7 linked regions of the Homo sapiens genome follow. The protein of the gene in region 1 interacts with the protein of each later gene in a pairwise test. Each region holds a gene or a part of one and is shown in the gene's direction. Other genes may lie near its edges.

What was found.
Region 2: the proteins of TAX1BP1 (region 1) and LMO3 interact in binary tests that used the Homo sapiens proteins (3 or more experiments, as listed by UniProt).
Region 3: the proteins of TAX1BP1 (region 1) and PLEKHN1 interact in binary tests that used the Homo sapiens proteins (3 or more experiments, as listed by UniProt).
Region 4: the proteins of TAX1BP1 (region 1) and UBASH3A interact in binary tests that used the Homo sapiens proteins (3 or more experiments, as listed by UniProt).
Region 5: the proteins of TAX1BP1 (region 1) and RALBP1 interact in binary tests that used the Homo sapiens proteins (3 or more experiments, as listed by UniProt).
Region 6: the proteins of TAX1BP1 (region 1) and SSX2 interact in binary tests that used the Homo sapiens proteins (3 or more experiments, as listed by UniProt).
Region 7: the proteins of TAX1BP1 (region 1) and CWF19L2 interact in binary tests that used the Homo sapiens proteins (3 or more experiments, as listed by UniProt).

What each region holds. Positions count from the first base shown.
Region 1 is NC_000007.14:27,795,662-27,799,161, forward strand, and holds part of TAX1BP1 (tax1-binding protein 1), read left to right. Parts: intron 1-454; coding exon 455-558; intron 559-3,500.
Region 2 is NC_000012.12:16,554,163-16,557,662, reverse strand, and holds part of LMO3 (LIM domain only protein 3), read left to right. Parts: intron 1-3,500.
Region 3 is NC_000001.11:969,482-972,923, forward strand, and holds part of PLEKHN1 (pleckstrin homology domain-containing family N member 1), read left to right. Parts: intron 1-795; coding exon 796-942; intron 943-1,039; coding exon 1,040-1,120; intron 1,121-1,204; coding exon 1,205-1,277; coding exon of another isoform or gene 1,278-1,397; coding exon 1,398-1,525; intron 1,526-1,595; coding exon of another isoform or gene 1,596-1,631; coding exon 1,632-1,727; coding exon of another isoform or gene 1,728-1,738; intron 1,739-1,842; coding exon 1,843-1,923; intron 1,924-2,593; coding exon 2,594-2,669; intron 2,670-2,806; coding exon 2,807-2,943; intron 2,944-3,379; coding exon 3,380-3,442. UniProt on the Homo sapiens protein: Controls the stability of the leptin mRNA harboring an AU-rich element (ARE) in its 3' UTR, in cooperation with the RNA stabilizer ELAVL1.
Region 4 is NC_000021.9:42,427,902-42,431,401, forward strand, and holds part of UBASH3A (ubiquitin-associated and SH3 domain-containing protein A), read left to right. Parts: intron 1-3,500. UniProt on the Homo sapiens protein: Interferes with CBL-mediated down-regulation and degradation of receptor-type tyrosine kinases. Promotes accumulation of activated target receptors, such as T-cell receptors, EGFR and PDGFRB, on the cell surface.
Region 5 is NC_000018.10:9,524,013-9,527,512, forward strand, and holds part of RALBP1 (ralA-binding protein 1), read left to right. Parts: intron 1-581; coding exon 582-743; intron 744-1,707; coding exon 1,708-1,839; intron 1,840-3,500. UniProt on the Homo sapiens protein: Multifunctional protein that functions as a downstream effector of RALA and RALB. As a GTPase-activating protein/GAP can inactivate CDC42 and RAC1 by stimulating their GTPase activity.
Region 6 is NC_000023.11:52,704,379-52,708,664, reverse strand, and holds the start of SSX2 (protein SSX2), read left to right. Parts: upstream 1-1,486; 5' UTR 1,487-1,553; intron 1,554-2,895; 5' UTR 2,896-2,915; coding exon 2,916-2,984; intron 2,985-3,422; coding exon 3,423-3,537; intron 3,538-4,072; coding exon 4,073-4,168; intron 4,169-4,286.
Region 7 is NC_000011.10:107,451,326-107,454,825, reverse strand, and holds part of CWF19L2 (CWF19-like protein 2), read left to right. Parts: intron 1-253; coding exon 254-376; intron 377-3,500.

The sequences.
Region 1 (3,500 bases):
CCTGCCTCAGCCTCCTGAGTAGCTGGGACTACAGGTGTGTGTCACCACGCCTGGCTAATTTTTTGTATTTTTAGTAGAGACAGGATTTCACCGTGTTAGCCAGGATGGTCTCGATCTCCTGCCTCGGCCTCGACCCGCCTTGGCCTCCCAAAGTGCTGGGATTACAGGCATGAGCCACCGTGCCCGGCCGCTTTTTAGCAAATTTTTAAAAAATCAAAGAATAATCCTTTATTATTGAATGCGAACTTGGTTCTGGCCAAACACACATTTAACAATTCTCAACTAGAGTTTATATATCCTTCTTTGTATATCTAGGATATGAATAGATATTTCTGTCCTTCAGCATTCCATTTACTATATTTTACAGTATACTGACCTTTAAGTTATTCTGAACAGGAAGATAATATAAGGGGCAAAATACTTTTTAACAGTCTTATATTCTGCCTTTCTACAGCAGAGGCAGATTTTGACATAGTAACAAAGGGGCAAGTCTGTGAAATGACCAAAGAAATTGCTGACAAAACAGAAAAGTATAATAAATGTAAACAACTCTTGCAGGTAAGTTAACTACCTTGTAAGTGAAAGAGATTTATAAAATGTTAATGACTTAGCTTACCTTTATTGTTTCAATTGATTGGTATCTTTGAGTTTCTTTTCCATCTCCATATAGTGTTACTTAGTTTCACTTTGGCTTTTGGGATGATGAGGTGGGCGTTTTGTGTACCTGTTCACATAGGCGTGTGTGTAGCATCATGAGACCTAAAGTTACTATTTTCTTTTCACCTAATAAAATGTTCTTGTTTGGGTAATGGGCAAATAGTTAATTGAGGTTAGAAATTATCTGTCATCGTATAAAGATGCATGAAAAATATTTGAACTTCATAAAAGGGAAGTGCTGTTTTTAAATTTACTATTATCGGCCAGGTGCGGTGGCTCACGCCTGTAATCCCAGCACCTTGGGAGGTCGACGTGGGTGGATCGCTTGAGGCCAGGAGTTCGAGACCAGTCTGGCCAACATGGTGAAACCCTGTCTGTACTAAAAATACAAAAATTAGCCAGGCTGTGGTGGAGCATGCCTGTAGTCCCAGCTACAGTCTCCTGAGGCAGGAGAATCACTTGAACCCGGGAGGCGGAGGTTGCAGTGAGCCGAGTTTGCACACTGTACTCCAGCCTAGGCAACAGAGCGAGTCTCTAAAAAAAAATAATAAATAAAATAAATTACTATTATAATAGCAAAGATTTTTACATCTTAAAGTGACTAGACTTGCATAGTGGAAAAGGGAATGTTAACCAAATGAATTGTCTCTTACGGTGTTTATTTTGATTATTATTATTTTATTTTATTTTTTTTTTTGATACGGAGTCTCACTCTCTCGCTCAGGCTGGATTGCAGTGGCGTGATCTCAGCTCACTGCAATCTCCGCCTCCTGGGTTCATGCCATTCTCCTGCCTCAGCCTCCCAAGTAGCTGAGACTACAGGCGCCTGCCACCACACCCAGCTAATTTTTTGTATTTTTAGTAGAGGCGGGGTTTCACGATGTTAGCTAGGATGGTCTCTATCTCCTGACCTCGTGATCCACTCGCCTCGGCCTGTCAAAGTGCTGGGATTACAGGCATGAGCCACCGCGCCCGGCCTATTTTGATTATTTTAAACAGCTTCATTCAGACTTTTCTGGTTTGCAGCCTTCTTGGTGTAGTATTCAGTACTGGAATATTTAAAGGAAAAGGGAAAATGCTTCTCATTTATATCAATTTGGCATAGAGAGGAAAAAGTGTTGTTTGTGCAAGTGATTTTTGTTTGTTTTTTTAAATGTGCTTTGTGTGTTTTTGTGTGCATTGGGGAGGGGAGGGGCATTTTTTAGAGCTATAGAATAAAATTTACACATTAGCTTCATGTTACTGTAATTTAATTTACAGTAATTATTTAAAATATTTTGTTGCTTATAAATAGCAAAATCTTTTAACCAAAGTTAAAATGAATTTTTTTTTTTGCTTGAGAGAATCCTGTGGAAGGGTTGATTAGAACAGTTTTACTCTTGAATTCAGGGTAGTTTTTTGTAAGAGTGAACTACATTTTCGTTAAAGATGAAACAATTCTGGATGAATATTTCAAGATTTTTCTATAGAAATAGTATTGAAAGGAAGATAGAATAATGTTCAAGCAAAAACCTTCCTCAGGGTGCTTTTTTTTTTTTTTAAACAACCATATTGAGGTATAATTGAAATCCAATGAATTGCACGTACCTAGAGTATACAGTTGGATCAGTTTTGACATACACAGTTGTGAAACTATCACCACAGTGCCATCACTCTCCCAGTTTTTTTGGTACCTGTTTGCAACACATCCCTTTCGTTATCCTTATCTCTAGGAAATTATTGGCCTGCTTTCTGTCACTATCAATTAGCCTACCTTTTAGACAATTTTATAAAATGGAGTCATGTAATATGTACTTTTTTCTACCCACTTTCAGCATGATTATTTGAGATTTATTCATATTATTGCATATATTTATTCCTTTTTTATTTTATCATTTGTTTATCCATTCACCACTTGATGGGTAGTTGGGGTTGTTTTTCGGCTGGTACAAATAAAGCTGCTTATGAACATTTGTTTAGAAGTTGTTTATGGACATATGTTTTTTTTTGTTTCTTTTGGGTAAATATCTAGGGGTGAATTGCCTGGGTGATATTGTAGTTGAATAACTCTGTAAGAAATTACCTCCTGGGTGCAGTGGCTCATGTCTGTAATCCCAGCACTTTGGGAGGCCGAGGTGGGAGCATCACTTGAGGTCAGGAGTTTGTGACCAGCCTGGCTAATATGGTGAAACCCTTTCTCTACTAAAAATACAAAAATTAGCTGGGCATGGTGGTACACTCCTGTAATCCCAGCTACATGGGAGGCTGGGGCAGGAGAATCGCTTGAACCCGGGAGGTGGAGGTCGCAGTGAGCCAAGACTGCACCACTGCACTCCAGCCTGGGTGACAGAGTGAGACTCTGTCTCAAAAAAAAAAAAAAAAAAGAAATTACCAAACTGTTTTGTAAGGTGTTTGTACCATCTTACATAGCCAGCCTAATGGGTGTGTACTGATAGCTCATTGTGGTTTTAATGTGCATTTGTATAATGACTTGATGTTGAGCATCTTTTCTTATGCTTATTTGCTCTTTATCTCTTTGTGTGAGTGGTCGAATCTTTTTGGTAGTTTAAATATAGGGTTGTTCATCTTGAGTTGTGTTTTTTTTTTTTCTGTATATGTCTTTTGTCTGATATATGTAAGGTGAATATTTTCTCCAAGTCTGTAGCTTGCCTTTTCATTTCCTTAATGATGTTTTTAGAAAAGCAAAATTTAAATTTTGATAAAGTACAGTTTATCAGTTCATTTATGTTTTATGCTTTTTACCTTCTAAGGAATGTTTGCCTAATCCAAGGAGATAAAGATTTTCTCCTGTGTTGTCTTCTAGAAGTTTTATAATCAGCTTTTCTATTTAGGTCTGTGAATCA
Region 2 (3,500 bases), on another chromosome or scaffold:
AATAGTCCACTAACTTGACTTTCCCACAAGACATATATCACAATAGAGTTTCTTGCTAAATGTAGATATTCAGATTGTATAAAAACAAATGCTCATATCTCTATCTGGTTAAATTCACAGAGCATGATTACTTAAACAAGGTATATAACAGTTTGAAGGCATATGCTGTACATTGCTTAATGATCTCCAGGAAAGTTATACCAATTATTCTCCTAGCAGAAATCTACAAAACTACGCATTCCCTCACATTCATTCTAAAACACTAGGAATTACGTTTAAAAAAAAAAAAAAAAAATCCTTGCCACCTTAAGGGATGAAAGATAGTATTTCATTATAATTTCTAACTGGCATTTATTTGATCCCTGGTGGTCCTTTGGTATTCCTTCTTTTAGAGAAGTAGGCAGTTTATGTCCTTTGTCCATTTTCTTCTATTAAGTAGGGTTACCTATTTTATCCATGTTCTACATAGAAAATAAAAACATTCAAGTGCTAAACCCAGCCTAAATTCTATTATGATGCAAAGTAATTGTAGGTTGTTAATGCTATTTACAAATCATATATCTATTTTATTTCACCATTGAAATAAAAAGTTGCATTCACAATTAAGTCTGTCTCCTCAGGAGAACTCAGTCAAGTAAGACAAACACTCCTAAATTTTGACTCTAAAACTGTTCACATTCTTATTGCTGCGAAATACTATTCTAGTATCATTATTAAAGTACCTAATATATTTCTGTGTTCGCTTCATTTATTACATGCCATAATGGGACTGCATATCTTTAGTGCCGGTTATGCACAATTAGCACTTAGTTATTGTCTTGTCACTTCAGCCCCTACAAGACAAACTAATGCGGGAAGTCAGCTAATCTTCATCAGTCAAGCAAAGCAGACAAATTTTGTTACCCAGGATACAGAAGGTTTTCATATAGGAGATTCTCCTTTTACTCTGAAGTTTGCTTCAGTCTCCTCCAGGAAACCCATATCCCACTTCCAGTAGCCAAATCATTGTCGCAATATTGCACTTTTCAAGTGAAACACAAGGCAAATAGGTAATTCATAGGCATTTTCTCTTAAGCAAACTTTATTGACGTCTAAAGTTGTGGAATTACGCGTTTGTGAATTGTATTCAGCAGTCATTTCATCTTTACCTTTAAATCAAAGTATCATTAAGATCCAAAGCATTTCTGAATGTTTTAAAAAGTAGCAGTAATAATAACCTTTCAGGATTGATTGTCCCTTATATATAGATCTCCTCTGCCCCTTTTAGAGGCGTATAGCTAAAACGTGAATCCTGCATTAAAATTCGGCTAGTTTCTCTATTTTAAAAGGTACCGCAGGAGGGTTATTTAAGCTTATTTTATGATATCTTGAATCTCATTCAGAATTGGAAGATTCTATATAACAGGTTAATTTCTTAAAGGTGAATAAGCCCCTTCTCCTTAGAAAACACAATAAAACTAAATGATAGTTTTGTAAGAAAAGGAAAAATAAAAAGCTTGTGATGAAATTTTCCCAAATATGTAAAATTATGTAACAATTAATTAATTTTCTTTTTTTTAAGAATAAAGCACTGTGCTAGGCTCTGTGGAAGCTGAGGTGGATAAAATCTGGTTTATTTCTTAGAGGTGTCCGGAGCTACGGGAGAGACAGGACATCAAAGACTCACAGAAGAGTGTAATCGATGCTAAATAGAGCTATACTGAGGGAAGAGAGAGCCATCCTTCTTGAAGTGTTAGGGAAGCATCAAAGGCCTGATATGCTGGGTCTTGAAAAAAGAACTCCCTAGAACTGGTTGACTTACAGGAAGTGTGTCTGCTCGGGGTTGGGGAAGATGAGGGAGCCAGGGAGCAGTGAGGAAAGGAATTTTCAGGCAAATTGAGCAACGTGCAAAGGCATGCAGATGTGAAAGCATTTGACGTGTTTAGGAAATGAAAAGCGGCTCAGTATGTTCAGAGATTAGAGAAGCGGTTTGGTAGGCACATGGAGGAGTAGAAAGAGAGCAAGCACCTAGAGGAAATGAAATTGTAAACTTAGTCTTTGAAAAGCCATTAAATAAAAGTCAAAATGAATACAAATTTAAATTAGTCATCTAAAATACATTTGTTATTTAAAGCTGTTGGTTTCTGGAATAAATCTACCTTAACCAATTTTTATTGACCACACACCTTAAGTGGTAGTACAGTTTATGATGGTTCTGCAAAGGGTTCAAAAGAAATATAACTCGTGGTCATTTACCGCAGAACTGCTGACTATAATGGCAAACCAGTTACACATTCATGAGAAATTTTGAAACACCAAAATAAACAATACACCAATAAATAAGTGCTTTGGGAAACATCAGAATAAGCAAATTTACATGGTCAGAAGATGTTGATGGAGGCAATGGGAACTCAAGGATTGTTACAATTTAAGTAGACAGAAAAAGGGGAGAAATATTTCTTGCTAGGGAACAACTTAAGTAAAGGTGAAAAGATTATCATTACCAAATAATAATGATAGCAAATTCTGATAAAGTATTAGTCAAACACCAAACACCGTTCTGAGTGTTTTACATGTACTCATTCGTTTAATACTCAAAATATCCCATAAATAGGTAGTTATTAGCTTCATTTGACAGATGAGGAAAGTAAAGTATAGGAAATGTAAGTAACTTGCCCAAGATTACAGTTAGAAGAAAGTGGTAGACTCAAGATTTAAACCTGGCCGGGCGCGGTGGCTAATGCCGGTAATCCCAGCACTTTGGGAGGCCGAGGCGGGCGGGCGGATCACGAGGTTGGGAGATCGAGACCATCCTGGCTAACACGGTGAAACCCCGTCTCTACTAAAAAATACAAAAAAATGAGCCGGTCGAGGTGGCGGGCGCCTGTAGTCAGAGCTACTGGGGAGGCTGAGGCAGGAGAATGGCGGGAACCCGGGAGGCGGAGCGAATCTGGTCTCCCTCTCCGGAGTCAGGCCCATTTCAAGAGAGGTATTTTATTTTCTGACTAAGAGCATATAAATGTGAATAGATATAGTGGACTTAAAGTAAGGTAAACTTTGAATAATGTATAGCAAGATTTGGGGTGTGGGTAGTGTCATTTGATACACTAAGGGTTGTTAGCAGTGAGATGTATAATGACAACCGGACTGTCAGTGGGAAAGACAGTAAATTTGTTCACAGGTGTATAGTGGAGGAATGAGTACACAACCCGGACTTCTTATTGAAAACAGTATAGTATAGAAATCTCTAACTTACAGTTAACTGAAGATGTGGAATAGGAAAGTATAGACACTAGAAATATGGATTGGAGCTCCCTAGCTAAGTGTTGTAAGATAGAAATTAATCATAATTGTCAGTCACTAACATTAGGGAAAGAAGATGGCTAGGCTAACATTTTTATTTCTTAAAAGGGATGTTACCAGTGGAGGCTTCTTAGCATAGGCTTTTGATAACCTGCTTAAAACTAAGCACTATATTTTATAAGGATGATTTACTATTTACACTTGTTTCATATACTTCT
Region 3 (3,442 bases), on another chromosome or scaffold:
GCATGCATGTGTGTGCATGTGTGTATAGGTGTGCATGTGTATGTGTGCACGTGTGTATGTGCACGTGTGTATGTGTATACATGTGTATGGGTGTATTTGCGTGTGGATATGTATGCATGTATGCACGTGTGTGCATATCTGTGTATGTGCAACTGTGTATGTGTGCACGTGTGTATCCATGCATATGTGTGCGTGTGTGTACATGTGTGTATAAGTGCGTATGTGTGTTCCCGTGTGTATGCATCTGTGTCTGTATTGTGTGGCATGTATGTGTCTATTGTGTGTGTATGCATGTGTGCGTGTATGCATTTATACATGTGTATGTGTGCGCATATATGGATGCATGCATGTTGCCTGCATGTGCACGTATCGGGTGTGTGTGCGTGTACGTGTACACGAATATGCATGTATGCATATATGTATGCACGTGTGTGTAAATTCTGCCGTGACTGTTTTCCTGTGGAAAGGCTGAGTGTGCAGGTTCTGTGCCTGTGGGGGGCTGTTCTTCACGTATGTGTTGTGTGGCTGTGCACAGGTTCTGTGCCTGTGGGGGGCTGTTCTTCACGTATGTGTTGTGTGGCTGTGCACAGGTTCTGTGCCTGTGGGGGGCTGTTCTTCACGTATGTGTTGTGTGGCTGTGCACAGGTTCTGTGCCTGTGGGGGGCTGTTCTTCACATATGTGTTGTGTGGCTATGCACAGGCAGACCATGCTATAGTCCTGTAGCTGTGTGGATGCGAGCGGAGGGGGTGGGGGGCCCAGGGGAGGCCCCCTCCCCTGAGCTCTACTCCTCCTAGGACATCCTGGACCTGGAGAACCAGCGAGAAAACCTGGAGCAGCCATTCCTGAGTGTGTTCAAGAAGGGGCGGCGGAGGGTGCCTGTGAGGAACCTGGGAAAAGTTGTGCATTACGCCAAGGTCCAGCTGCGGTTCCAGCACAGCCAGGTGGGGGCCGGGCTGGGTGGAGCACGCTAAGGGTGCAGCATCCCCATCAGCCTGGGGCTCCCCAGACTCCGCACTGACGACCCTGCTCCCCGCGCAGGATGTCAGCGACTGCTACCTGGAGCTATTCCCCGCCCACCTGTACTTCCAGGCCCACGGCTCGGAAGGACTCACATTTCAGGTGAGGCGGTGGGCAATGGGGTGGGGCCATGGCCGCCCTTCCCTCCATGGATCCCTGAAGCTCCTCCTACCCTGTGCCTGGCAGGGGCTGTTACCGCTGACGGAGCTGAGTGTCTGCCCGCTCGAGGGGTCCCGAGAGCACGCCTTCCAGATCACAGGTGTTTGGGATGCTTCCCGGGCCCCCAGAGGCACTCCTGACCCAGGACTTGGAGAGGGGCCTGCCCTGTGGCTGCGGAGCACGTGTGTGTATGTGTGTGCCCTCTCTGCCCTGCCCGCAGGCCCACTGCCCGCACCCCTCCTGGTGCTCTGCCCCAGCCGGGCCGAGCTGGACCGCTGGCTTTACCACCTGGAGAAGCAGACGGCCCTCCTCGGGGGGCCGCGGCGCTGCCACTCGGCACCCCCACAGGTCAGTGCCGGGGACCCCACCCCCCTCCCCACCCTGATCCTCGCAGCCGGCTCTGACCTCCTCCTCACAGGGGTCCTGCGGAGACGAACTCCCCTGGACTTTGCAGCGCCGTCTAACCCGGCTGCGGACGGCGTCAGGGCACGAACCCGGCGGCAGTGCTGTCTGTGCCTCGAGGGTCAAGCTGCAGCACCTGCCCGCACAGGTGGGTGGGAGGTGCGTGGGGCTGTAGGGGGATGGGAGGGGTGCATGGTGGTGGGCAGGGCGGTGCAACAGCAGCTCAGTTCCCTCATCGCCTGACCCCACCCCCACCCACCCAGGAGCAGTGGGACCGGCTCTTGGTCCTGTACCCAACGTCCTTGGCCATTTTCTCCGAGGAGCTGGACGGGCTTTGCTTCAAGGTGGGCCCCTCCCCACTGTGGGCCCGCCCCAGGGAGGCAGCTGTGTGGGGGTGGGAGGGGGCAGCCATGCAGGAGGAACCTGTATTTCGGGGCTTGTTGAGACAGAGCGCAGGGCCCTGCCCACCCAGCCCGCGGTCCTGGTCAGTCTGGTCTCCGCTGTGACATGGAGGAGCCCCTGCCCGCCCTGAGGTTCTCACCCTGAGGTTCTTGACCGTCACCCTGGGGCGGGCAGCATGGGGCTGAGAGCCCCTCCCGGGGACTCCCTTGTGTGTGCCTGCCCGTGAGGCGTGTGTGTGCACACGTGCGTGTGCGTGTGTCCTCCAGGGCGGGCTCCGGGAAGGGGGTGTGCACTCACGGTAACCTTCAGTCACTGAGGAACAAACACAGGGCCCTCCCCATGGTTCACCCGGCCCAACTTCTTCTCTGGGGACCCCAAGAGGCCAGTCCTGTGGCTTTGTGTGTCTGCCCCTAGCCGGCGAAGGCCCCCGCGCCAGGGTTGGTGGTAGCCCCAGGAGACATGGGACCCACTGGCCTCCCTCAGGGTGGTGGCCTCGGTGCCCAGCTCTCCAAGTACCCAGCCAAGCTCTGGAGGGCAAGAGGGTGGGATGAGGCCAGGCGGGGCCCCGGGGCTGCCCCTACAAAGGCCTGGCCCTCAATCTCTGCTCCGCAGGGGGAGCTCCCACTCCGTGCCGTCCACATCAACCTGGAGGAGAAGGAGAAGCAGATCCGCTCCTTCCTGATTGAAGGTAGGGCCCTGACCCTGGTTCTGCCTCCCGCCTGGCCAGGCCATGGTGGGGCGGGAGCCTGGGGGACGCCCGACTCTTTAGTGGGGGCGCTGAGGGGTGCACCCCCCCGCCAGCCCCTCACAGCATCTGTATGCCAGGCCCCCTCATCAACACCATCCGCGTGGTGTGCGCCAGCTACGAGGACTACGGTCACTGGCTGCTGTGCCTTCGCGCTGTCACCCACAGGGAGGGGGCCCCGCCGCTGCCTGGTGCCGAGAGCTTCCCAGGGTCGCAGGTGAGGGGTCAATAGGCCCCACAGCCCAGGTCCTGGGCAGTGGTAAAAAGGGGGCAGCAGACCGGGCGTGGTGGCGCACGCCTGTAATCCCAGCATTTTAGGAGGCTGAGGCGGGCGGATCATTTGAGGTCAGGGGTTCGAGATCAGCCTGACCGACGTGGAGAAACCCTGTCTCTATTAAAAATACAAAAAAATTAGCCGGGCATGGCGGTACATCCCTGTAACCCCAGCTACTCAGGAGGCTGAGGCAGGAGAATCGCTTGACCAGGAGGCGGAGGTTGCAGTGAGCCGAGATCGTGCCACTGTACTGCAGCCTGGGCGACAGAATAAGACTTCGTCCCAAAAAGATAAAAGGGGGGACAGCACGGTGGGTCCAGGCAGGGGCGGGTGGGGAGGGGGTCCAGCCCTCACTCACCCCCACTCACTGCCCATCCAGGTTATGGGCAGTGGCCGAGGCTCACTCTCCTCAGGCGGACAGACCAGCTGGGACTCGGGGTGC
Region 4 (3,500 bases), on another chromosome or scaffold:
GTGCCTCCAAAATTCCTATCTCGAAGTCCTAACCCCCAGTCTCACTGAATGTGATTGTATTTGTAGACAAGGCCTTTAAAGAGGTATTTAAGGTTAAATGAGGCAACACAGGTGATGCAATCTGATCCAATCTGACTGCTGCCCTTATAAGAAGAGGGGATGAGGAAACAGACACACAAGAGGGATGGCCCTGTGAGGACACAGGGAGGGGACACCACCGGCAAGCCCCAGAGAGAGGCCTCAAAAGGAACCAGCCCTGGCAACACCATCATCTCTGACCTCCAGCCTCCAGGACTGTGGGAGAGTAAACTTCTGCTGTGGAAGCTAAACAGTCAACCCACACGCAGCGTCCCTGTCGCCATTTGCACCTCCTGGCAGCTGGTGCAAATCAGCCCAAAGCTAAGTGGCCTTGGCAGGTCTTTGCAGCCTTGGTGGCTAGGTGAGGAGGCCTTTTCTTGAGAAATCAAGAATGTGTCTCTGAAGCTGGGTCCATGAGAAATGGCGATCAGCGTTCACCATGTGAGAAAGGCCCAGACTTGGGAGAGCCGAGACTCCCCAGGGCTGTGGCCTGGGGATTATTTAAAAAGCTTTAAATGTTTTTAATAAGGACTTTCAGCTATTTAAAAAGATTGAGCTAGTACCATGGATTCCAACAACCCTATCATCTGGAGTAAAACAGAGACCATTCTGTTTTACTCAGCCTAGTGACTTAAATGTTAATCTCATTTTTAAAAAATACCTTCACAGTGACATCTAAAATAACATTTGACCCAATACCTGGGTACTGTGGAGAAGTACCCAGGTATTGGGTAGGGGGAGAGCCTGGAATGGAAGTCTCTGCTCGTAGCTCAGCCTGTGTCTAAACCGTGCTTTCAATGGCTGAAAACAGAACATGCATCTGCCTGTGAACTGGCCCCCCTCACACGGTCTTCTCTATAGGGATTTCACCCCTTCCCTACAGTAAGAAAAGACAACTGGCCACAGGTCTGGTAGAATCATGGCCCCAGAGATGATGCCCTAATCCCGGGAACTTGTGCATGTGACCTTATTAGGAAAGAGAGTTTCTGCAGATGGGATTGAGTGGAGGGTCTTGAAATGAGGAAATGATCCTGGGTCATCCAGGAGGGCCCTAAACCCCATCACAAGTGTGCTGATGAGAGAAAAGCAGAGGGGATCTGATACAGCAGCAGAGGAGGCCATGCAGCCAGAGAGGCAGAGACTGGAGCAATGTGGCCACAAGCCAAGGAACACCTGGGGCCACCAGGAGCTGGAAGAAGCAAAGAATAAATTCTCCCCTAGAATGTCAGAGGGAGCATGGCCCTGCCAACACCTTGACTTTGGACTTCCAGCCTCCAGAGCTGTGAGAGAATAAATGTCTCTTGCTTGGCACCGCCCAGCCTGTTATGGCAGCCCCAGGACACCAATGCAGCACCTTCTGTCTAGAGAATTGGTGCAGCCCTGCCTCATTCCATAGATCCCAGGGGTCAGTCCATTCCACTCCCCACAGGGCTTTCTTTTGCTTTATCATCATATTCCTGTGGCAAAGCTCCACAGAAGAACATTTAAAATGCTCTGAGCTCTTCCAGGAAGAAAATACCCCAAATCCAAAACTTCAGCCCGCAAGTTGAAAACTTCAGGGACTTTGTTACTAGGCAGAATGAGTTTCCAAGAGCATGCATGCTTTGCAATCTACTTGCAGATCAGCTCTCTACAGCTCTCTAGGATGTTTTAATATTCATTCTGGGATAGGGGCGGTGGGTGCTGCCTCTTGGTGTCAGTGTAGGCAACCTCTGCATAACCACACTTCACATGCAAGAGAGCAAGACAGCAAGACAAACCTTCCCCTGAAGCTGTTCCCCAGGAGATGCATGTTTCTATCCTGAAACAAACAACTGAAGTTTTCCAATAAGGGAAAGCAATACTATTCACTTGGCCTTACCGTATATCCGTTTTGAAGACTCAGCCCAGTGACCCTAAGAAAGTGTTTGCATGGTGACTGCAAACGTTCTCACTGGCTCACCAATCCCATAGTTTATGCACCTACCAAATGTAGCCAGGGCCACCGAGAACTGTCTGGTCCTGATAAATTTCAGCAGCTGGAAATTCTGCATCGTCCGGGCCAGCGTGGACTTCACAAGGGATCCACAGGATCTGGCAGGAGCTGCCCGTGGTGCTGACCCCGAGAATGCTTTCAAGGCAGGTGAAATTGGCCCCCACCCTACTTTCTGGTGTCCCTTCCTTCCCAGTAGTTTCCAATCACTTCCCTAGGTACAGGGACACCACGGGGGACCACTCTTGCCAGAGCGAGTGGCCAGTTAGTGCAGACCCTTGAGACTGGATCACTGTTCACAGAAGAAAGTCCAGACAGGAATGATCAGCTGCACTGGCCAGGTGGAAAATGAGTCCCTTCCTCCCTGAGGGTGTTTGGATGTTAAAGCCATTTGCATTTTCCTCTCTAGGATTTGGAGGGAATCAGGGCGATGCTGGGGCTGGTGTATGAGGGTTTATGCAGACAAGGCTTACCTCTCCTCACCTCTCTTCCTTACCCTGCTCAGTAGGAAAACACACACAAGAGCTGCCCTCTCATTTTAGCCCAGAGAGAGCTGTGTGGCCAAGAGGGAGCAGGGCAGGGATAGTGCCTGTCTGAGCTGCCTCCTGCCCAGGGGTCCTCCCTACCCCGTCCATCCCTGGTCGCCTGGGCTCCAGGCAGGATTTGGTCCCCAGAAGGCCCCACAGCCCACCTCCCGTGGCAGGCCGTGTTCGCTCTGCCCCCACCATCTCTGTTAATGACTCATCTTTCCATGTTCATCCCTTGGCCCAGGGAGACCTGCAGCTCCCTAAAGCAGGGATGCTGTGGACTGCAGCTTCATGGACCAGCATGTGACATGCTCCCCCCTGCGGTGCCATGTCACAGGGAGGTTGAGGCATGAGTCCTGGGTGCCAGAGGGCAGCACCACTGGGCCTGTGTTGCTGCAGGGTTCCCCACCTCTTGCTCTGAAATGGACCCCCCTGGATAGCCTGGGCCTGGCTCTGGGGCTGGGAATGTAGGTGAAGGGCCGATGTCAGCTGGCACATTAGTGCCCTCCAGGGAAGCAGCCGAGCCTGGTGTCTCCCTCCAGGGTCCTGGTGCAGGGCTTATGCTCCACGCAGCTGTCCTGGTGGCCTCTAGCTGGCTCGGCCCCTAGCACTCTGCTCTCTGGTCCCAGGGGGGGCATCCTCAGCTCTCATTCACTCTCTTCATCTCATTTGCTGTGGGTTCCTCTCAAGGCCAGTCCCTCAACTTGATCAGCCCTGCACAGCATGGGGAGAAGGGTGGCCTAGCCCCTGAGGACAGAGCCCCCCACAACACCATCCCACACAGTGGAGGCCCCTCCCAAAGGGTAGCCAGCCTCGCTGCCCCAAGCATGACCTTTGGGCTACTTCCCCAAAGCACAGGCTCCCCAGAAAGAGGGCGGGCGTGAGCCCTGTAACTGCAAGGCTCCAAGGCCATCCTGCGGCTG
Region 5 (3,500 bases), on another chromosome or scaffold:
TGGGTAGATCATTTGAGGTCAGCAGTTCGAGCCCAGCCTGGCCAACATGGTGAAACTCCGTCTCTACTGAAAATACAAAAAAATCAGCCAGGTATGGTGGCACACGCCTGTAATCCCAGCTTACCGGGGAGGCTGAGGCAGGAAAATCGCTTGAACCCGTGAGGTGGAGGTTGCAGTGAGCTGAGATTGTGCCACTGCACTCTAGCCTGGGCTACAGAGCGAGGCTCCATCTCAAAAAAGCACCACCACCGCCACCAACAACAAAAAACACACAAAAAATAAGATGTTTAAATCAGTTAATACTGTGATAGAAAAAATAAACAAATGGATGGCATCAACTTCTCTATCCTTTTCTTGACTTTTTTTCCCTTCAGATCTTTCTGGTGCTTGAATACATGATTTAACTCATATTTTACCATTTTCTTCTTAAATTGGCTATTAACTAGCAAAGACTGTGTTGTCATTACTGGGTAGAATTTTCTTTATGTGTCCAGGATTAAAGGATATATTATGTAATAGACACAAATAAGTGAAATAGAATGATAGTTTTAATGGTTTTCTTGTAAATCTTTTTTTCTTAGATCAGCAATCGAGTCCTGTATGTGTTTTTCACACATGTGCAAGAACTCTTTGGAAATGTGGTACTAAAGCAAGTGATGAAACCTCTGCGATGGTCTAACATGGCCACGATGCCCACGCTGCCAGAGACCCAGGCGGGCATCAAGGAGGAGATCAGGAGACAGGTGTGTGCACCCTGCCTGCCACAGCCTGCCTCTGCATTGGCTGTTGTGGAGTCCAGTGGTGATGGGCTCTTGTTTCCTGAACACTTTCTGTGTGTCTGGAGCTATGTTAGGCACACTGAAGTCAGAAATTCCCATCTGGTACTGTTTCATGCCAAATAAGTCAGAATACCATGGTGGAAAGAGCATAGTTTTTGGAATCAAAACACCTGGCTTTAAATTCTTGCTCTGATCTAGTTAACTGATTTTAGGCAAATTCTTAACCACCTTAAGCACTGGTGTTCTTGCTTTAAAATGGATCCTCTTATAGGATTGATGTGAAGATTACCCCAAATGAGATAATATATGAAACATGCCAGGCACGTTGTAAATAGTCTAAAGATGTTTGCCTTTTCTTGACAAGGTTGCTGTCATCAGCCATATTTTATAGATAAGAATATTAAAATTCAGGGAAGTTAAGTAACTTACCCTGTGTGACATGATTACTAATTACAGACCCAAGATTTGAGCCCAAATCCTGGGATTTTTTACTGTGCTATTTTGATGGAAGTAACAATGCCGTGTGTGTGTGTGTGTGTGTGTGTGTGTAATTCAAGACTAAATAAGAAAGTTAATTACATTTGATTATTTATTTGCATGCAATTTATCAAACCCCTGCTTGCTTTTCTTCCCTTGTATCTGCCCTGAGCTCCCAATGCTTACTAGTTAATGATGATGACATTGGAGATGGGGATGTGGATTAAGTATTATTGAACCAATACAAATTAGTGAATAATTAATAGGCAAAACAATAAGAATGATTTTTCAATCATATCTTCAAAAAAATAATTAGTGCCATTATTTTACTCTAATGAAATAAAGGATAATTGAAAAATAGTTGATTCTTCATCTTTAGAAATTGCACGTGTTGTTAGTTTAAGATAAGAGGATATGAAATGCAACTAGGTGTGTGGCATTTGCTTTCTAGGAGTTTCTTTTGAATTGTTTACATCGAGATCTGCAGGGTGGGATAAAGGATTTGTCTAAAGAAGAAAGATTATGGGAAGTACAAAGAATTTTGACAGCCCTCAAAAGAAAACTGAGAGAAGCTAAAAGACAGGTGAGTTATTATTTTGATACCTAATGTTTATAATAGAATGTGTTTGAGTCTTTTATGTACTTTATGTACTCTTTTTTTTTCTTTCTTTCTTTTTTCTTTTGATGTTGACCAGGGTGGTCTCAAACTCTTGGCCTCAAGTAATCCTCCCACCTCGGCCTCCCCCAGAGTGCTGGGATTACAGACATGAGCCACCACCCCCAGCCCAAGTTCTTTCTGTTAAGAATATTATAATGTCACTTGAAGTGAACTTCTCTGGTGGGACATTTATTCACTAAAATGTTTCTAGTCCTATATTATTGATATTGCAGCCTGGTGTCAGTCACATGTTTCAGTGTAATCTAGAAAGTTTTTTTTTTTTTTTTTTTTTGAGACAGGATCTTGCTCTGTCACCCAGGCTGGAGTGCAGTGGCACGATAATGGCTCACTGTAGCCTCGACCTCCTGGGCTCAAGGGATCCTCCTACCTCAGCCTCCTGAGTAGCTGGGACTACAGGTGTGCGCCACCATGCTCGGCTCATTTTTTATTGTTTGTAGAAATAGGGTCTTGTTATGCTGCCCAGACTGGTCTCAAACTTCTGGGCTCAAGCAGTCCTCCCACCCCCCAAAGTGCTAGGATTATAGGCATAAGCCACCATGCCTGGCCTAGAAAGTTTTGTTTTAATTAAAAATGATTTTACTAAAAAATTTGTCATTTCCTGCTTGGTTATACCTGTAAACAGGGCTTTCTATGGATGAAAAACAGGCTGGATGGTGACACACCTTTGGGGACTGCTGGGGAATTTAAGGCATTTAGAATTAGTCAGCTCTTTGGAAATGTAGTGATGAGGGTCACCTGGAAGGCCTTGAAGATCAGGAGAGATTCTATTTATGTAATAATAATAAGAGTGGCCTGCAATACCTGATGAGTTTAGGGTATGCCAGTCAGACTTTTGAGTTCCCTCTTGTTTAGTGTGTGTTGCTTGGTTCTGGGACTGTGAGTGTACCAGCCACAGCAATGGTAAAATCCCAGATCTCTGGATCACCTTAAAATCCACATTGCAGATCAACTGCAGCATCTAAACAGCACATCCAAGGAACATTAGTTAGCCCTTGCCTGAATTGGGGAACATGATAGTAGGTCTCTGTTGTGGTTGTGTTAAAGAGACAAAGACAACCTGAATACTTCTGTTTCTTTGAGGTTAGAGATTTGTATTAATGTGGAGGATAGCTTTGTCACACGGGGCACATTCATGGGACTTTTACACGTGCGCTCCAGGATATGTAATGTAGCAGAAGCCCTCTGCGTATTTTTCTTCCTTCTTTTTCCTAGCTCACTAGGTTATCTATCTCTTGCTTCCTTTACGTGTTTTTTGTTTTTGGTGTTGGTGTTGCTGTTAAAATTTTCCCTTCATGTCTCAGCCTAGAATCAGGTATTAGAGATGGACCACTCAGGCTTCAGGGGCAAATTGTAATTGTTAATCATATGGCATTGCCAGTCAGCCTTTAAATGAAGAGTCCCCTGACTGACCTAGGACAGGGCTGATGGAGGTTTGGCTTTTGTTTCTCTTGCTTCTACATCTTGCCTAAATAAAGGAATCATGGTATAGCAGCCAGAACCAATATAAGAAGGGATGGATTAACTTTGCTTTACCGATTTTCCCGATGCTATGTTTTCACGCCAGC
Region 6 (4,286 bases), on another chromosome or scaffold:
GGGAGGATTGCTTGAGCCTAGGAGGTCGAGGCCAGCCTGGCCAACATAGCGAAACCCCATTTCTGCTAACAACAAGAACAACAGAAAAATAGCGTGGGCGGGGTGGCTCACTCCTGTAGTTTTGAGGCCAAGGTGGGAGCATTGCTTGAGCCCAGGAGTTTGATACCAGCCTGGCCAACAAAGCGAAAGCCTGCCTCTCCTAAAAAATAAATAAATAAATAAATAAATAAAAATGAGCGGGGTAGAATGGCACACGCCTATAGTTCTGAGGCCGAGGTGGAAGCATCATCTGAGCCTGAGAGGTTGAGGCCAGCCTGGGCAACATATCGAAACCCGGTTTCCACTAAAACGAAACAAAACAAAACAAAAAATAGCTTGGGCAGGGTGGTGCATGGCTGTAGTCCTGAGATGGGAGGATCCCTTGAGTCCAGGAGCTTGATGCCGGCCTGGCCAACATAGGGAAACACGGTTTCTACTAAAAAAAAAAAAAAAAAAAAAAGCGTGGGCAGGGTGGTGCATGCCTGTCGTCTCGAGGCCATGGCGGAAGGATCCCTTGAGCCCAGGACGATGAGACCAGCCTGGCCAACATAGCAAAACCTGGTTTCTACTTAAAAAAAAAAAAAAAAAAAAGCGTGGGCTGGGTGGTGAATGCCTGTAGTCCCGAGGCCGAGGTGGGAGGATCGCTTGAGCCCACGACGTCAAGACCAGCCTGGCCAACACAGCGAAACCTTCTCTATTAAAAAATCAAAAAATAAAAAATATTAGTGGGGGTAGGGTGGTTCGCGCCTGTAGTCCCAAGACGGAGGCTGGAGGATTGGCCAAGGCAGATGTAACCAATACCACAATCACATCCCATAAGTAAATACATTTTCCTCTCTTCAGGGCTACAGGTAAAGGATGGTAATTGTGCGCACCATACTTAAGATTCCCTTTCAAAAATGTAAGCAGAGGTTGCGGGGCCTTGGACTGTTTTTTCAGTGGCAACAGACATAGAAGCCACTGAAGAATGAAAGCCACGACTAAGTATAGCAAACCTCCGCAAATGTGCTAGTTTGGAAAACATCGTGTCTTTCAAGTAGAAAAATCACAGATTGACTATTTTTTTCTTCCCACAGTTCAGACTAGAATCCAGATTTTTAACCCAAGATCCAGGAACGGTCTTCAGAGAGTTCAAAATCTGACGGCGCCTGAGGACCACCCACTTTTTCGCAGTGGCAACAAAGTGTGGCTGGAGGAGGAGACATTATTCTGCTATGTCACTGCCCAAGGATGATGGACCAATCAGGGCAGTTAGTGAACTCCATCTGGCCAATTAGAAGTCAGAACAGTAGGCGGAACAAGCGAAGCGGATGTGGCTTCTATCAGTCCCGGCTCCAGGGACGGAACCTTCTCAAAGTGGGGGTGGAGACTCTAATTTTCCCGCCTAAAGCATCCCCTGGGATTGGCTACTTTAAGTTCAGAGTACGCATGCTCTGACTTTCTCTCTCTTTCGATTCTTCCATACTCAGAGTACGCACGGTCTGATTTTCTCTTTGGATTCTTCCAAAATCAGAGTAAGCATACGCCGATTTTCTTTTTCCATTCTTCCTACCCCTCCCCTCCTCCGCGGTGCATTTGCTATCTAGTTTTAATAAGGAGTGTATATGAGGCAGGCCGCCATCTCGAATCTTTCCTGTCAGTTTCTAACTTTTTCAGGTACGGGATTTTTCCTAGGAACTCTGTAGTAACTTAAGAAATTTGGGCCGGGCGTGGTGGCTTACACTTGTAATCCCTGCACTTTTGGAAGCCACAGCTGGTGGATCGCCTGAACCTAAGAGGCGGAGGTTGCAGTGAGCCATGATCACGCCAGTGCACTCCCGACTGGGCAACAGAGCGAGACCCTGTCTGAAAAAACAAAAACCAAAAAAGCTCACTCAAATCTTTCCTCCTGGGCTCAAGTGAGCCTCTCGCCTAGGCCTTGGGGCTACAGGCGCGCACCACCCCGCTTCTGCTAAATTTTGTTTGTTTTTTTTAGTAGAGATGGTTTTGCTACGTTTGCGAGCCTGGTCTCAAGCTCCTGGGCTAAGGCGATCCGCCCACCTTGGCCTTCCAAAGTGCTGGGATGGTACAGGCCTGCTCCACCAACCCCAGCTAACTTTTTGTGTATTTTGTAGACGGGGGTTTTGCTGTGTTTCCCAGCCGGGTCTCGACCTCCTGGGCTCAAGCGGCCTGCACGCCTCGGCCTCCCAAAGTGCTGGGATTACAGGCGTGAGCCACGGCGCCTGGCTGATTGCTGCATCTTGAAATGCCCCACATTCTCTCTAAGTGATGGCGGGCTCTTGTAGTCTCAGAAATTCTAGCTCTCTTCCTTCTAATAATTTACAAATCACCGAGTAATAGCCTCTGAACACGTTCATATTAGCGATGCTCATTTCTCTTCAACAGAACAGAACCCCCCATCCCTCTGCCTGATCAGATCCATCGCCAAAGAGACCATGTTATCTCTGGGACTAACTTCCCTTCCTTTATTTATTGAGTGGGGGTGTCAGCATGCCCCCACTGAATAAAATTACACAGTCATGTCCCTGCCTCCCCAAAAAGGGTCCGTACATCTTTCAGGGTAAGCCTAGCTCCAGGGAAACTACTAACAACATTAGCCAACCCCCTCCCAAAGACTCAAGGCTGCTTTGCCCATAGGAAACCTGTCATTCCCTATCAATACTTCTCCCAGAGACCCCTGGTTCCCTGTTTTCATCTGATTTCTCCCCATATCCTTACTCAGGGACAGATAAGCCCCGGATGGAGAAATGCAGCAGCTGATTCCAGGTGACTGAGGGTGGCCGGCCTTCACTGACTTCTCCCTCCACAGGATCAAAGCTGCTGTGGCTGGAAAGACTCAGGCTATTTCTCTTGCAGGTCAGACTGCTCCCGGTGCCATGAACGGAGACGACGCCTTTGCAAGGAGACCCACGGTTGGTGCTCAAATACCAGAGAAGATCCAAAAGGTGAGGTGACCTGGAGGGAGCAGAGTAGTGGCCCAGGGGACAGTGTGGGGTGACCCGGTTTCTGAGGAGGGGAGGACAGAGATACTGGAGACAAGGAGCAGGGTCTCGGGGGAGATCTGGACCCTTGGGAGCCTCCCACCCTCGCTCTGTCATCACCTAGCATCCCTGGAGACAAGTCTGTGACCTTGCACTACATCTGGTGACTCTCAGTCCATTCTGGAAGGTGGGAAGAGAGCCAGCCAGCAGCATTAAAGCCCTACTGTGTGGCAGGGGTGAAGCTAGGGAAGGTCCCTCGTGTTCTGTCAGTTAGCCATGGCATCAACCAGGAAGGATTATCATCCCCAGTTCCCAGATCTAGCACACAGGAAGCGGCTCCAGCTGAATGGCAGACATGCCTAGCTGAGTCCCTGCCATAATTCCTTTTTTTTTTTTTTGTAGGCCTTCGATGATATTGCCAAATACTTCTCTAAGGAAGAGTGGGAAAAGATGAAAGCCTCGGAGAAAATCTTCTATGTGTATATGAAGAGAAAGTATGAGGCTATGACTAAACTAGGTAACAGAAAGTTCTGGGAACAGACAAGTCTGGGGACACATGAGCATCCCTTTTCCTGCTTTGGCTACTTCTTAGGCTGCAGAAAGTACCTCACATTTTCCTTTTGTGCAGGGAAAAATCGCAAGGCAGCTTCTGGGTGTTCTGCTCTTCTGTATCCTGTCAGGGCTGAGGGCAGGGACTGGCCACAGTGGAGCTTATACCTGGATCCTGCACGTTTCTCTCCCTTAGGCTTCTGTTCTGATGAGCCCAACTGTCTCTGTGGCATCCCGGCAACCCCCCTACCCCCACCCCACACACACCCACCCTACCTTCTCTCGGCTTGTCTCTTCCTTTTTTTTTTTTTTTTTTGAGTCAGTCTCAGTCTGTCACCTAGGCTAGAGGGCAGTAGTGCAATCATAGCTTACTGCAGCCTTGAATTCCTGGCCTCAAGCAATTCTCCAGCCTTAGCCTCCCAAAGTGTTGGTACTACAGACATGAGCCACCATACCAGGCCCAAGCTTGTCTCTTAAGGAATAAACATTTTGCTTCTTTCTAGGTTTCAAGGCCACCCTCCCACCTTTCATGTGTAATAAACGGGCCGAAGACTTCCAGGGGAATGATTTGGATAATGACCCTAACCGTGGGAATCAGGGTGAGTAGATGGGAAGGGGCTGGAAAGGGTCTCCTCAAGCCCAGCTGCTTTTCAGCTCAGCTACCTGAGAAAGATCCTCAGGCATTTGTTCCCTCATACACATCAGGGCTGAGTGAAA
Region 7 (3,500 bases), on another chromosome or scaffold:
AAATAAAGCCAAAATTTTCCCAGTATTTTTCTGGTAAGAAGTCTCAGTTATATGATTTATTGATAGTGCATATATTATAGAAGGTGTGTTAAGATTTCCTGAAAGATTTTATTTATTTAGACATATTCTTGGTCTTATTTCATCAGAGATTGAAAGTTTTTTAGAATGTGGTTTATTTTTTTTCTCTCAGAATACATCCTTTTAAATTAAGATGAAATTAAATTATTTTCTTGCCTGTTCAAAATGATTGTAGGAACACTCTGTGAAGAAAAAGAAGAAAAAAGACAAGCATTCAAAAAAAGCAAAGAAAGAAAAGAAAAAAAAGAGCAAGAAACAGAAATATGAAAAAAACAATGAGTCATCTGATAGCTCATCAGTAAGTATGTACTAAAATTAATCAAAGCAGCTATTTGAGAACATTTTATTTGAATGTGTAACTTATGGGAAGTTAAAATACAAGAAAACGTAAAAAATATATTACTAGTTATGATATGAAAATATCTGGGATACATCTACTTAGAGATGTCCAGAAAATATTGGAAATGTTGATCTTGAATTTCAGAGAAAGGCTAAGAGGATAGGGATATGATTTGGGAATTATTGCTAAGCACAGCACTGGATCTTGCCCAAGGCCTGCTGTAACAATTACCTGGCTACAGCTGGTGTTCACTCAAGGCCCTGGGGCTCTGCAATCAGCAGGTGATGAAGCCAGCCAGGCCTGCGTCTTTCCCTTCAGGGTGGCAAGTTCCCCCAGGCCTGAGGGTGGGTCCAGAGGTGCCATCAGGGACCCAGGTACTGGCGTCAAAAACCTTAGACTTGTACCTGGTGTTCTATTGAACTGTGGCTGAGCTGGCATTCAACCTATGAATGGCAGTCCTTCCCACTCTTCCCTTTTCACAGGCAGAGGGGCCTCACCCTGTAGCCACCACCATAGACCCACAGGTAGTACTGGCAGGCTACCACTGATGTTCCCTTAAGGCCCAAGAACTCTTCAGTCAGCTGCCCGGCCTGGGACTCACCCTTCAGGGCAGTGGGCACCCCCTGGGCCAGGGCAGATCCAGAAATGCTATCCAAGAGCCAAGGCGTGGGGCTGGAGACCCCAAGATCCCTCTTGGTGTTCTACCACCCTGTGGCTGAGCTGGTACCTAAGGCGCAAGACAGAGCCCCCTTTACTTTTCTCAAGCAGAAGGAGGCTCTCCCCATAGCCACCACAGCTGGGAATGTGCTGAGTCTCACCTGAATCCAGCAAGTCTCAGATACACAGTGAAGGCCACAGTGTAGTACCCGATTATTGGTGCTGGTTATTCAGGGCCTAAGGGCTCTTTAGTGGTTACCAGCTATGGCTGAGCTGGTATTCAAGATGCAAGATGGAGTCCTGTATTTACTCTTCTCTCTCCTCTCCTCAAGCAGAAGGACAGGGTCTCTTTTGGAGCTGCACATTGTGCAGCCTTGGGTTGGGGGAGAGGTGGTGTAAGCACTCCCTTAGCTGCACCAGTTGCCCCCCAACCACCTGTCCATTGGCTCTGAGGCAAGTTTAGCACTAGGAGTCACCAAGGAATTCCACATCCTTGCTAGTACTTGGTATTGTCAGTCTTAGTAATTTTTAGCTATTCTACTGTGTAATGTCTCGTGTGATATTTCTCTGAAGAACAAGGATGTAGAGCATCATTTTAAGTCCCCATAGGGCATTCCATGTCTTTGTGAAATCTGATTTATTAAATATTTTCTTTTTTGTTTTTCATCATTTTTTCTTAGTGCTTCTGGTATCCTAATTTTTGCGCACCTCAAGATTGTGATTTCTCCTATGTTTATGTTATTATTAAATTTTTTTGTTTTTTGTTTGTTTTTAGAGATGGAGCCTCACTATGTTGCACAGACTGGAGTGCAGTGGCACCATCATGGCTCATTGCAGCCTCAAACTCCTGGGCTCAAGCAATCCTGCTGCCTTAGCAGCCCAATTAGCTATGACTACAGATGTAGTACAGAAAAGTTGTTTTTGTAGACATGGAGTCTTACTATATTGTCGAGGCTGGTCTCGAACTCCTGGGCTCTAGTGATCTCCTGCCTCAGCCTTCCAAAGTGCTGGGATTACGGGTGTGAGCCACCATGCTTGGCCTCCTATTTTTTTTCCCTAGAAGTTTTATAGCTTTGGCTTTTTTGCTTATTTATAATCCATTAATAATTTTTATTTATGTTGTGTAGTGTCAGTTTATTTTTTTCCCACGTGGATTTCCAGTTTTTCTAGCATCATTTGTTGAAAAGGCTGAATTTTCCCTATTGGAAGGAATTTAGGGAGATAGATATGTTAAAATATTCTTTCAATCCATTATGCACTTGGTACATCTCTCTATCCATTTATGTCTTTGATTTTTCTCACAATGTTCTGAAATTTTTAGTGTAGAGATCTTACATGTCGTTTGTTATTTTTTTTCCATTTTGTTTTCTGGAAGTGCTATCGTGAGTGGAATTTTAAATTAAATGTGTTTACAGCTAGTATGTAATTATAGAAGTGACTTGAAACATTAGGATCAGAAAAAAAAGAAAAAAGTGAAAAAAAACCTGCTTTTGATATATTCACCTTGCCTCTTATCACCATGTTAAAATTACTAATACTAGTGTTAGTAGCTTTTTTAGTAGATTTCTTAGGATTTCTAGGTAAATGGTATGTCATGTGTGAAAAAGACTTTTACTTTTTTCTTTTCAGTCTCTGTGCCTGTTTTATTTGTTAATTGTTGTTGCCTTATTTCAGTAGCTAGGACTTAAAAATAGTGTTGAATGGAAGTGGTGAGAGTGGACATGATTGCCTTTTTCCTTATCTTAGGTGCAAAGCATTCAGGTTTTTACATTTAAGCATGATGTCTGCTGTGGGACTTTCATGTATGCCTTTTCAGATTAAGGAAATGACATTTTATTTCTAGTTTTCTGAGAGTTTGTATCTTGAATGAGTATTGAATTTGGTAAGTGCTTTTTTTGCATCTATAAGTGTTAAAATTTGCCAGTGAAACGGTTTGGTCCTGGAGTTTCTTTGTGGAATGGGTTTAACGACAGAGTTAATTCCTTTAATAGTTGTGTTAAATACTTTCTGTTTATTCTTGAGTTAGTTTTAGTAATTTCGGTTTTTCTGGGAATTTATTCCATAGAAATTGTCAAATTTATTGTCATAAAGTTATTTGTAATATTTCCTTTGTTCTTTTAATGTTTACGGAATCCATAGTGATACCCCTCTTTCATCCCTGATTTTGGTAATTTCTATTTTCTGTTTGTTTCCTCTGTCAGTCTGTCTTGAGGCTTATCAGTTTTATTAATCTTTCTTTATTGCCTTTTAGTTTCCTTGAATTTTCTCTGGTTGTGTGTTTTCTATTTCATTGATTTAAACTATATTTATTCTTTGCGAATACTTTGTGTTTAATTTGCTCTTCTTTTTCTAACTTTCTAAGATGAATGTATCGCCACTGATTTGAAATCTTTTCTAACGTGTATTTATTTTATAAAATTTTCTC